2 separate regions of the Homo sapiens genome follow, and region 2 is linked to region 1. The links come from fine-mapping of genetic effects on plasma protein levels. A gene starts in region 1. The other region holds a variant in brackets. All regions are shown on one strand. Distances are from middle to middle. Region 1 holds the start of LY96 (lymphocyte antigen 96). Region 2 overlaps LY96 (lymphocyte antigen 96).

Evidence for each region. PIP is the posterior inclusion probability: the model's chance that the variant is causal. Protein levels are from antibody-based Olink assays in UK Biobank. Linkage for the fine-mapping came from a reference panel and not from the study's own genotypes, which makes the PIPs less certain.
Region 2: its variant is fine-mapped to the plasma level of the LY96 protein (UK Biobank, PIP 0.99). The variant lies in the coding sequence of LY96. If it changes the protein, the assay may bind it differently, which can mimic a change of level.

Annotation. Positions count from the first base shown.
Region 1 is chr8:73,989,052-73,994,432 of GRCh38, forward strand. LY96 (lymphocyte antigen 96) reads left to right here and starts at 2,341. Exons shown (of 5, transcript NM_015364.5): 1 at 2,341-2,503. The coding sequence starts at 2,392. RefSeq lists enhancers at 2,583-2,682, 3,053-3,122.
Region 2 is chr8:74,001,997-74,007,377 of GRCh38, forward strand. LY96 (lymphocyte antigen 96) reads left to right here. Exons shown (of 5, transcript NM_015364.5): 2 at 2,800-2,889. Among named protein-coding and RNA genes, the nearest start is that of LY96, 13 kb to the left of the region's middle. The variant A/G (reference allele first, on the strand shown) is at 2,853.

The DNA of each region.
Region 1 (5,381 bases):
GAACTCTTTCATCTTGTCAGCTTGAGACTCTATGCCCATTGAACAACTCCCCATTTCCCCCTCCTCCCTTGGACTTTTGCCTTTTTGAAAATGGCAGGGCCAAGAGCCACGGCTCAAACCTGTGGTCCCAGCTGAGCCCAGGAATTTGAGGCTGCAGTGTGTTATAATCACACCTAAGAATAGCCATTGCACCCCAGCATGGGCAACACAGTGAGACTTTATCTCTAAAAAAATGGAAAAAATCACACTTCTGTTGTAAAATATTTTTACCAACGTATGATTATTTTCTTCTTAAGTGTGCAGATTTTTAGGCCAAAACTCCATGCCATTTTTGGCTGCTAACCCTAAGCTATATCCTGTAAAGGATTTCAAGTAGCAAGATATCTAAAGGAATAGCTGTCTTTCTAAAATGGAGTGAGAGTTTTGAAATGAAATACATGTCATAACAAAAGGATGACATTTCATTATTAGGACTCAAAATGTTCTCTTGAGCTCTAGCTTGTTGTAGGTGAATACATTATTAAGACTGGTGGAGTCCCTGCCCACAGCACAGAATTACAGCTAGTGTCCCCTGTTTGGGGTCTTATCTGGCCCTGTTCTGTCCTGTAACTAAACCTGCTGCTGAAAAGAAATAGTTTCCATGAGACTGTTTACTTCAGATCTATAGGTGCAGCTCTCTGGGCCATGATAATTTGATTTGTTGTTGTTATTGTTGTTTTTTGAGATGGAGTCTCGCTCTGTCTCCCAGGCTGGAGTGCAGTGACATAATCTTGGCTCACTGCAAACTCCACCTCCTCGGTTCAAGCAATTCTCTTGCCTCAGCCTCCTGAGTAGCTGGGACTACAGGCACTTGCCACCATGCCTAGCTAATTTTTGTATTTTTAGTAGAGACAGGGTTTCACTATGTCGGTCAAGCTGGTTTCAAACTCCTGACCTCAGGTGATCCGCCCACCTTGACCTCCCAAAGTGCTGGGATTTACAGAGGTGAGCCACTGCGCCTGGCCTGTTTGTTTGTTTTTGAGACCGAGTCTCACTCTGTTGCCCAGGCTGGAGTGTAGTGGCCCAATCTTGGCTCACTGCAACCTCTGCCTCCTGGGTTCAAGCGATTCTCCTGCCTCAGCCTCCCGAGTAGCTGGGATTACAGGTGTGTGCCACCATGCCTGGCTAATTTTTATATTTTTAGTAGAGACGGAATTTCACCATGTTGGCCAGGCTGGTCTTGAACTCCTGACCTCAAGTGATCCACCCACCTTGGTATCCCAAAATGCTGGGATGACAGGCATGAGCCACCGTGCCCAGCTGAGAATTTGTTTTATAAAGCAGGAGGCCCCATCCTCTGGGGGCCGTGGACCAGTACCAGTCCATGGCCTGTTAGGAATCTGGTTGTGGCTTGTTAGGAAGTGGGCTGCACAGCTGGAGGTTAACAGCAGGTGAGCGAGCATTACCACCTGAGCTCCAGCTCCTGTCAGACCAGCAGCAGCATTAGATTCCCATGGGAGCAGGAACCTTGTTATGAAGTATACAAGCGAGGGATCTAGGTTGCGTGCTCCCTATAAGAATCTAATGCCTGATGTTCTGAGGTGGAACAGTTTCACCCTGAAACCATCCCTCCCCATCCCCTCAGTCCGTGGAAAAATTGTCTTCCATGAAACTGATCCCTGAGGCCAAAAATGTTGGGGACTGCTGTTATACAGAGCTGTAGGAGAGAAGAATAATGCAGAGGGAAAAGGAGTGCCTGTCTGTTGAGACTTTCAGGGGGACCTAGGGACTGGTTTTGTTACAGTTGACTGGGAATTGTCTTGTTTATTTTATTTTATTTTTCATTTAAAAAATTTTTTTGAAATGGAGTCTTGCTCTGTTGCCCAGGCTGGAGAGCAGTGGTGCCATCTTGGCTCACTGCAACCTCTGCCTCCCAGATAAAGTGAAGCTCCTGCCTCAGCCTCCTGAATAGCTGGGATTACAGGCATGCACTACCACACCTGGCTAATTTTTGTATTTTTAGTAGAGATGTGTTTCATCATGTCAGCCAGGCTGGTCTTGAACTCCTGACCTCAAGTGATCCACCTGCCTCAGCCTCCCAAAATACTGAGATTACAGGCATGAGCCACCGTGCCTGGCCAAAGTGTCTTGTTTTATTTTTAAGTCTTTGATCACTCTCATTTACAGTAAGTGTTTGAAGAGTACATTCTAAATCATTTTTCTCTCTTCCTTTACAGGAAGTGCTCAAATGTTGAGCACACACACACAAAAAAAGAGGAAACAGTTGGATAGGAACTCAGAAATCATGTGACTGATGACTAAGTTAAATCTTTTCTGCTTACTGAAAAGGAAGAGTCTGATGATTAGTTACTGATCCTCTTTGCATTTGTAAAGCTTTGGAGATATTGAATCATGTTACCATTTCTGTTTTTTTCCACCCTGTTTTCTTCCATATTTACTGAAGCTCAGAAGCAGTATTGGGTCTGCAACTCATCCGATGCAAGTATTTCATACACCTACTGTGGTAAGTAAAACCGCAAAACAAATAATTGTAGCATCAACTATTTTGAGGGTAAGTTTTCACGAGAACCGTACACTGTTGTGGCTGGAACACACGAAACATCAGTGTGTTCCAGCTGCTGTGGCGGACGCTGCCAGCAGGAAAAGCAATAGCTGGCAGCTGCCCCATGAGAATGTTCTCGACCACTCACAGAGCTTGTGAGTCTCTAAACTGTGTTGTGCTTGACCTCCAAGTGCTTCTGTTCCCTGCGTCATCTTTCTCTACCCTGAGCCCAGTTTTTGGTTCTGCCCATTTTTAATAAAACCATCTGCTTCTGAGCTTTCACCTCAGCCTTGACACTTACTAGTTCTTCTTCTTGAGATGGTAGAGCAGTCCCAGCTGCTTCCTGGAGTTGATTTCTGCTCTAAGCTGTGACTCTTGAGTGCTCTTGGAATCATCCCCCTCACTGGATGAAAGCCTGGTTCTGTCACTAGCTGTGTGACCTTAAGCAAAGTACTCCAGCCTTTTTAGCACTGAAGTGAAAGTGATTTTATAGTCTACTTGATAAGGGTGTTGTGAGGTGAAGTTTTTTAGCATAGGGTCACATAGAGACAATAATACTCTTAATTTTTTTTTGGAGTCAGCCATACCCTAATACTATTCACTGGCTGTGTCACTGTCCCCTGCCCCAGCTGCTCATTAGCAAGTGTCCTGGGATCTGAAGGCACAGTGTCAGGCCTGACAGCTGTTTTGGTTCGGTACTTTCCACCGTGCTGCTTACCATGGGTTGGCTGCCCTTTTCCACCCACTAGCAATAGCTGGGAGGTTTAAAGTGGTGCTTCCCAAAATACCAGTTCTTTGAGATTCTTTTGGGAAAATAGGATCTATGACCTAATCATCTGGGAGAGATTTACAGATGTACTTTGGGTTCTGAGAAGTTCTGCAATAAAGGCACCTGTTTAACCACATTTTCAATTTCATTTGTTGTTTGTTTGTTTGTGTTTTAGTCTGGAGTGTATGTTAACTCTCTTGAGAAACATGCTCTGCCAAATGCTAATATAAAGTGACTTTCGGGAAATTGGGATAATTGCCACATGTGAGGAGGAGACTTAGGAGTGTGGCCAGTCACACACCATGGCCCTTCTCCTGGTGGGTTGCACTGAATTCCCTCCAAACGTATGTCTAAAATCTCTCCATGCTGCAAGATCCTTTTGCATTCCCCTCTTCCAGCAAGGCTCCTACTCTACTTGGCCCCCACTTCCCTCTCCTCCTTTGGCTCTTTTGTACCATGTGCTAATTATGCCACTGTGTGTGTGTGTGTGTGTGTGTGTGTGTGTGTGTGTGTGACAGAGTTTTGCTCTGTTGCCAGGCTGGAGTGCAGTGGCGCGATTTCGGCTCACTGCAACCTCTGCCTCCCAAGTTCAAACGATTCCCATGCCTCAGCCTCCTGAGTAGCTGGGACTACAGGTGTGCGCCACCACACCCGGCTAATTTTTTTTTTTTTTGTATTTTAGTAGAGACAGGGTTTCATCATGTTGACCAGGATGGTCTCAATGTCCTGATCTTGTGATCTGCCCACCCCGGCCTCCCAAAGTGCTGGGATTACAGGCGTGTGCCACCTTGCCCGGTTTATGCCACTCTTTATATGGTTTTTATGGATGTAACATTTTGTATTATTATTTAGCTTTCAATCTTTTCTTAACAATAACTCAATTTGTCTTTTTAAAACATTTCACATTTTATCTTATTTTATCATTTATTTTTGAGACAGGGTTTTGCTCTGTTGTGCAGGCTGGAGTGAGTGGCATGATCTCCACTCACTGCAACCTCCACCTCCCTGGCTCAAGCCATCCTCCCAGCTCAGCCTTCCAAGTAGCTGGGACTACAGGCACATGCCACCACACTTGTCTAATTATTAATTAAATAATTTTTTTTGAGTTTCACTCTTGTTGCCCAGGCTGGAGTGCAATGGCATGATCTTGGCTCACTGCAACGACCGCCTCCTGGGTTCAAGTGATTCTCCTGCCTCAGCCTCCCGAGTAGCTGGGATTATAGGTGCCCACCACCACACCCAGCTAATTTTTGTATTTTTAGTAGAGACAGGGTTTTGCCATGTTGACCAGGCTGGCCTCCAACTCCTGACCTCAGGTGATCCGCCCACCTTGGCCTCCCAAAGTGTTGGGATTACAGGCGTGAGCCACCGCAGCTGGCCTAATTATTAATTTTTTTGTAGAGATGGAGTCTTGCTATATTGCCCAGGCTGGTCTGGAACTCCTGGGCTCAAGTGATTCTCCCACCTTGGCCTCCCAAAGTGCTGGGATTACAGATATGAGCCACTGCACCTGGCCTAAAATTTCACATTTTAATCATTTTTGAGTGTTTAGCTCAATTGTATTAAGTATATGCACATTGCTGTGAAACCATCACCGTTGGTGTATCTTTTGATTTGACTTTCTAGTTTTTTTTTTTACTTTGAGACAGTCTCATTCTGTCATCTAGGCTGGAGTGCAGTAGTACGATCTCAGCTCACTGCAACCTCTGCCTCCTGGGTTCAAGCGATTCTTTTGCCTCAGCCTCCTAAATAGCTGAGATTACAGATATGCACCACCATGCCTGGCTAATTTGATTTGACTTTATGAAGGAGGATCTTCCTTCCTTCTCTCTGAGAAACCCTGTGGTCCTTTCCTGCTGCCCCACTGACAAAGGGACTGTGGGCAAGCCACTGGAATACACATCTACAGCAAGATGTTGCTTGTTGCCATCCCCACTGCCATATGACTGCCTTCCCGGCCTGAGAGAATCCATCCTGCCCAGCCAAAAATGCATCACCTGTGGGAAGCACTGATTCCTCTAGGTACCATTGTGAGGGTGTTGGTGACAACAACCTCTGATTCACTGTGAT
Region 2 (5,381 bases), 13 kb after region 1:
TTCTTCCTTTCTTCCTTCCTTCCTTCCTTCCTTCCTTCCTTCCTTCCTTCCTTCCTTCCTTCCTTCCTTCCTTCCTTCCTTTCTTTCTTTCTTTCTTTCTCTCTCTCTCTCTCTCTCTCTCTCTCTCTCTCTCTCTTTCTTTCCTTTTCTTTCTTTTTGAGACAGAGTCTTGCTCTTTTATCCAGGCTGGAGTGCAGTGGCGTGATCTCAGCTCACTGCAACCTCTGCTTCCCAGGCTCAACTGATTCTCATGCCTCAGCCTCCTGAGTAGCTGGGATTATAGCCATTATTTCTTTGAATAAACTTTCTGTAGTCTGTTCTTTTTTTCTTCCACTTCTGGAACTCTCATAATGCATATATGGTTCTGGTTGGTGGTGTCTCACCATTACCTTAAGTTTTCTTCACTCTTTTAAATTATTTTTTCCTTTTGCTCTTCTGATTGAATTCTTTTCCAGTGATCTCTCTCTGAGTTCACTGATCCTTTCTCTACTTGGTCTAGTCTGCTGCTGAACCCCTCCAGTGAACTTTTTAGTTCAGTTATTGTGTTCCTCAGCTCCATGATTTATTTATTTATTTCTTTTTTTTTTTTTTTTGAGACAGAGTCTTGTTCTGTTGCCCAGGCTGGAGTGTAGTGGCACAATCTTGGCTCACTGCAACCTCCGCCTCCTGGATTCAAGTGATTCTCCAGCCTCAGCCTCCCAAGTAGCTAGGATTACAGGCACATGCCACCACGCCCAGCTAATTTTTGTATTTTTTTCATAGAGGTGGGGTTTCACCATGTTGGCCAGGCTGTTCTAGAACTCCTGACCTCAGGTGATCTGCCCGCCTCGGCCTCCCAGAGTGCTGGGATTACAGGCATGAGTCACCGTGCCCAGCCTTCAGCTCCATGATTTCTGTGTGGTCCTTTAAAATGTTTTCTTTCTTCTTGTTGAAATTCTCACTGCATTCATGTATTGTTCTCTTGACCTCAGTGAGCATCTTTATGGAGGTATTTTAAATTGTCTGTCAGGTAAATCATATAACTTCATTTCCTTAGTGTAAGTGAGGAAGATTTGTCTTGCTCCTTTGTTTGAAACATCTTTGCCTGATCTTTCATTTTCCTTGTCTCTCTGTTTGGCATCTACACATTACAAAGCAGACATCTTTTTCAGTCTTCACAGATTGGCCTCACACAGGAACATACCCACACCTATTGTTGTGGGAATCAGGAGGACGAGAGAGACCTCGGGGGAAAGCAAGAGGATCTTTATTGAATGCACTCAGACCCAGCAGACTTAACATCCAAAAACTGGGCCCTGAACAAGGACAGCACTTGACTTTTATACACACTTCTAAAAGGGGGTGGGCTAGCTTGAAGCAGGCTTACAGTGGCACAAAAGCAAGGATATAGAGGCAGAACAATTAATCCAATTGTGACAGGTTCATAACTCAGGACTATACATGAACATTGCTATGCAACCCAGATGTCTGTTATCTAGGTTTTGCTCAAAAGAGCCTTGCACTGGTTTATCTCATAACCTTCACCATGGTGCCCAGACGGCTGTAGTTCAGGCCTGCTCAGGCTTCTCACGACCTTCGCTGTACTTCTTAGGTAAAACAGAATACTTGAAGTTCCTAGTTACAGAGAACAAGAATCTGTAAACTCATATCATAAAAGAAAGGAAAATTTGTTTTTCCTCTCCCTATGTTGAGGGAGTGCTGGAAGAGTCTCCAGAGCACATTTCTTTGTGTCCTATCTTCTCAGATAGTGTTTATCAAGACTTTTCCTGGGTCTGGGCCTTGCCTGCTACTGCCTTTGAGATGAGTCAGCCTAATACAGGAAAGCTTATTTCTTTCTCTTTTTAATTTTCTTTTTCTTTCTTTCTTTAATTTCCCACTTCACTATTAGCCTGGTTAGAGATTCTGGGGTCCTCTACCAACTCTTTCTCACTTCAGGGAGATGCAGGCAGCTGTGTTTTTTTGTCCACCTATTCCATACTGAGCCAGAGATGGGGTGGTGAAGGGAACTGTGGCATCTACCAGCCCAAGCTGCTGTCTCCATTCCCCTGCCAGGCAGCTAGACTATGCCAGACCTGTCAGAACTCTAGGACTGATGAGACAGATATAAGTTTTCTGGGGATCCCCAGAGAAATTGGGATGCTGGATGCATGGATTAACTCTTTCCCTCCCCGGGAGAAAGCTGAGAGCTAAGATTTTTCATCTTCTCACTCTGTGCTGAGCAGAGGGGAGGATTAATGATGCCTATCTGCCCAAGCCACTGCCTTTATTCTCCCCTGGGTGGTAGACTGTGCCAGACTCATCAGAGCTCCAAGACTGGCAAGACAGAAGCCAGTCCTCTGGGGAGCCCTCGTGAAAAAGTTGGTGTTCTGGACATGTGAAACAACTTCTCTCCTCCCATGGGTGGAGCTAGGAGCTGGTTGGGGGGGTCTCTTCCTGATTGTATGACACCACACCAGGGTAATAATCTCTGATTAGACAGTGTCCCAAGTCTCCCTACTGGCTTTGTTGAATCTGGTTTTGTGTTCTCCTTGCATGCAGGAGTCTTTCAATTAGTTTGATTTTTCATAAAGGGAATATTTCTGTAAATTGTTGTGTTAGTGGAGGCAAGAAGAGTTCAGGGCTTCTGATTCTGCCACATTGCTGATGTCATTCTTCTGGGGAGATATTTTCAATCATCATCAATTTTTCTTATTTTATAATTTTAATGCAAGATTCATCTTAAAAGGCTGATATTCAGAATACTATACTTAATGGAGATGATTTGTAGTAATTTATTGACATTATCTTTATTGCTTTTAGATAAAATGCAATACCCAATTTCAATTAATGTTAACCCCTGTATAGAATTGAAA[A/G]GATCCAAAGGATTATTGCACATTTTCTACATTCCAAGTAAGTTCAAATTTTTGCTTTTATAGACCAATCAAAGGAGTTAAGAAATATCAGTGATAAATGATTGTGTTTCAAATATACTTGTATTCGTTATCTATTGCTACGTAACAAATTACCACGATCTTTGTGGCTTAACACAGCACACATTTATTATCTCATCATCTTTGTTGATCAGTATTCTGGGCATAGCTTACCTGTGTCTGCTTCAAGGTCTCCCATAAGGCTACAATCAAGGTGTTTGCCAGGCTGGAGTCCCTTCTGAGGCTCAACTAGGAAATATATACTTCTAAGCTCACGTAGCTGTTGTCAGTATTCAGTTGTTAGTATTCAGTCCCTTGCTGGCTGTTGGCCACCCGTCAGTTCCTTACCACATGGGCATTTTCAGTATGGCTGCTTGCTTTTTCAAAGCCAGCGAGGGGGACAGTCAGCTAACTAGGCAAGTCACAATCTTATATAGCATAATCATGGAAGTAACACTCCATCATCTTTGCTGTGTTCTATTGGTTAGAAGCAAGTCACTAGGCTAGCCCATACTACTGGGAGAGGATTACACAAGAACATGTGGGTAGAAATGGGAATAACTTCAGCTGTCCAACAATCTTACAGGTATATCCTTCATCAATCATTAGCTATAAGTAATATTGGGTTTCCATTAGTCAAAGATCTGTGTGTCAGCAAGCCAGGACTTCAATATTTTTTAAAGATGGTCTTTCTAGAGAAAAATACAGTAATAATGGGATGACAGAAGGCCATGTGTTTTGTTTTGCTTTGTGTTGTGTCTTGGTTTTCCTCTCTATGACTTTGCTTGTTATCAGCTTAGAAAAAACTAACGCAGGTGGGGTGATAGCATGGGGCTGTATCTCAGTCTCTGTGCAGACACAAAACTTTTTCCTCTCCTACCAGTTACCAAACATTGTTTATTGCCTGTAAGCTCTGGAATCCCAGAAAACTTTAGTTTTAATCTTTATCATCATCATTATCACATAATTTACATCCTAGTTTAGATTTGGAGCTTGTTTTAGATTAATACTTTACAGAGTAGTTTTACATGAATAAGCTTAAACATTTTCCCCCGATTTTAGTTCTCTGGCTTACCAGAAAAATGAAAAACAACAACAACAAAATCCCCAAAACTGAGAACCCAGGAATGATAGACAACAAACTTGTGTTTTAATTTTCATGATTCTAGTTGTTCAACCTGTTTTTTTGACACTCTGTATCTGCATTCATTTATTCACTAAAAAGATGCTTAGTAAATTGTAAGTATCATGCTAGGCACTGTGAATTCATTGATAAGATATTCTCTCTCTCTCTCTTTTTTTCTTTTGAGATGGAGTCTCTGTCTGTTGCCCAGGCTGGAGTACAGTGGCATGATCTCGTCGGCTCACTGCAGCCTCTGCCTCCCGGGTTCAATCCATTCTCCTGCCTCAGCCTCCCGGGTAGCTGGGATTATAGGCACCCACCACCATGCCTGGCTAATTTTTGTATTTTTAGTAGAGAAGGGGTTTCACCATGCTGACCAGGCTGGTCTTGAACTCCTAACCTCAAGTGATCCACCCGCCTAGGCCTCCCAAAGTGCTGGGATTACAGGCGCGAGCCACCGTGCCCAGCCAATAAGACATTCTCCTGATCTTCAGGAATCCATCAGTGCAATAGGAGAGACAGAACTGCAGATAGTATGGTATAAGTGAAGTGACAGCAACAGGGCTTAGTGACAGCACAGAGCAAAGGATGATTAACTCTATTTCCTTCACTTTCCTGGCCAAAGATAAAATAAATAATCTAAAGTTTTGCTTGGCTAAGGCTCTACAGTTTCTTCTTTTTTCCTAGGTTCTGTTTTCTGGTCTGTTGGCAGGTTTTACCCCTACACAATTGGCATAAAGGATGATTTACATAATGAATAATCTCACTTTCAAGTGAATCCCTTGCCCTTACTCGCAGGAAACAGGTTGTATCTTTCCAGGCCAAGATAATAAGACAGTACGAAATCATTTAGAGTTCTCTGAAAAGCAGACACTAAGAAGGAATTAGGCTAGAGATTTCTTGGAGGAAACGCTTGTGAACAGTAAAGGGGAGAGGAAGCCAGAGTAGGCTAGGAGAAAATTCAGATTGGGGTGCAGGTCTGATACCTTTGAAAAGAGAGTAGGGAGGAAGGAGAATTAAGTAGGATAATCCTCAGACCAGAATGCATCCCTGAGACACTCTTGGGCTGGGCCAAATAGGAAGCCCCAGAGCAGAATGCCTGTTGTAAGAGACCCATGACAGGCGGGAGTAGCCTGGCTCTAGGGTCCTTGCAGTGCTGGATCATTATAGGAGCAGCCTACGAGAGGGTGGCCTCTGGCTGAGTGCTGAGATAGATGTGAAGGTATGGCAGCTGCAGGCTGTCTGCCAGCTACTCTTCTCACAGCAGCTGCTTTTGAAGGGAAATTTGAGGGACATACCTCAATGGCCATCACAAGTGTTTTATAATTTCTCACTAAATATGACATTTA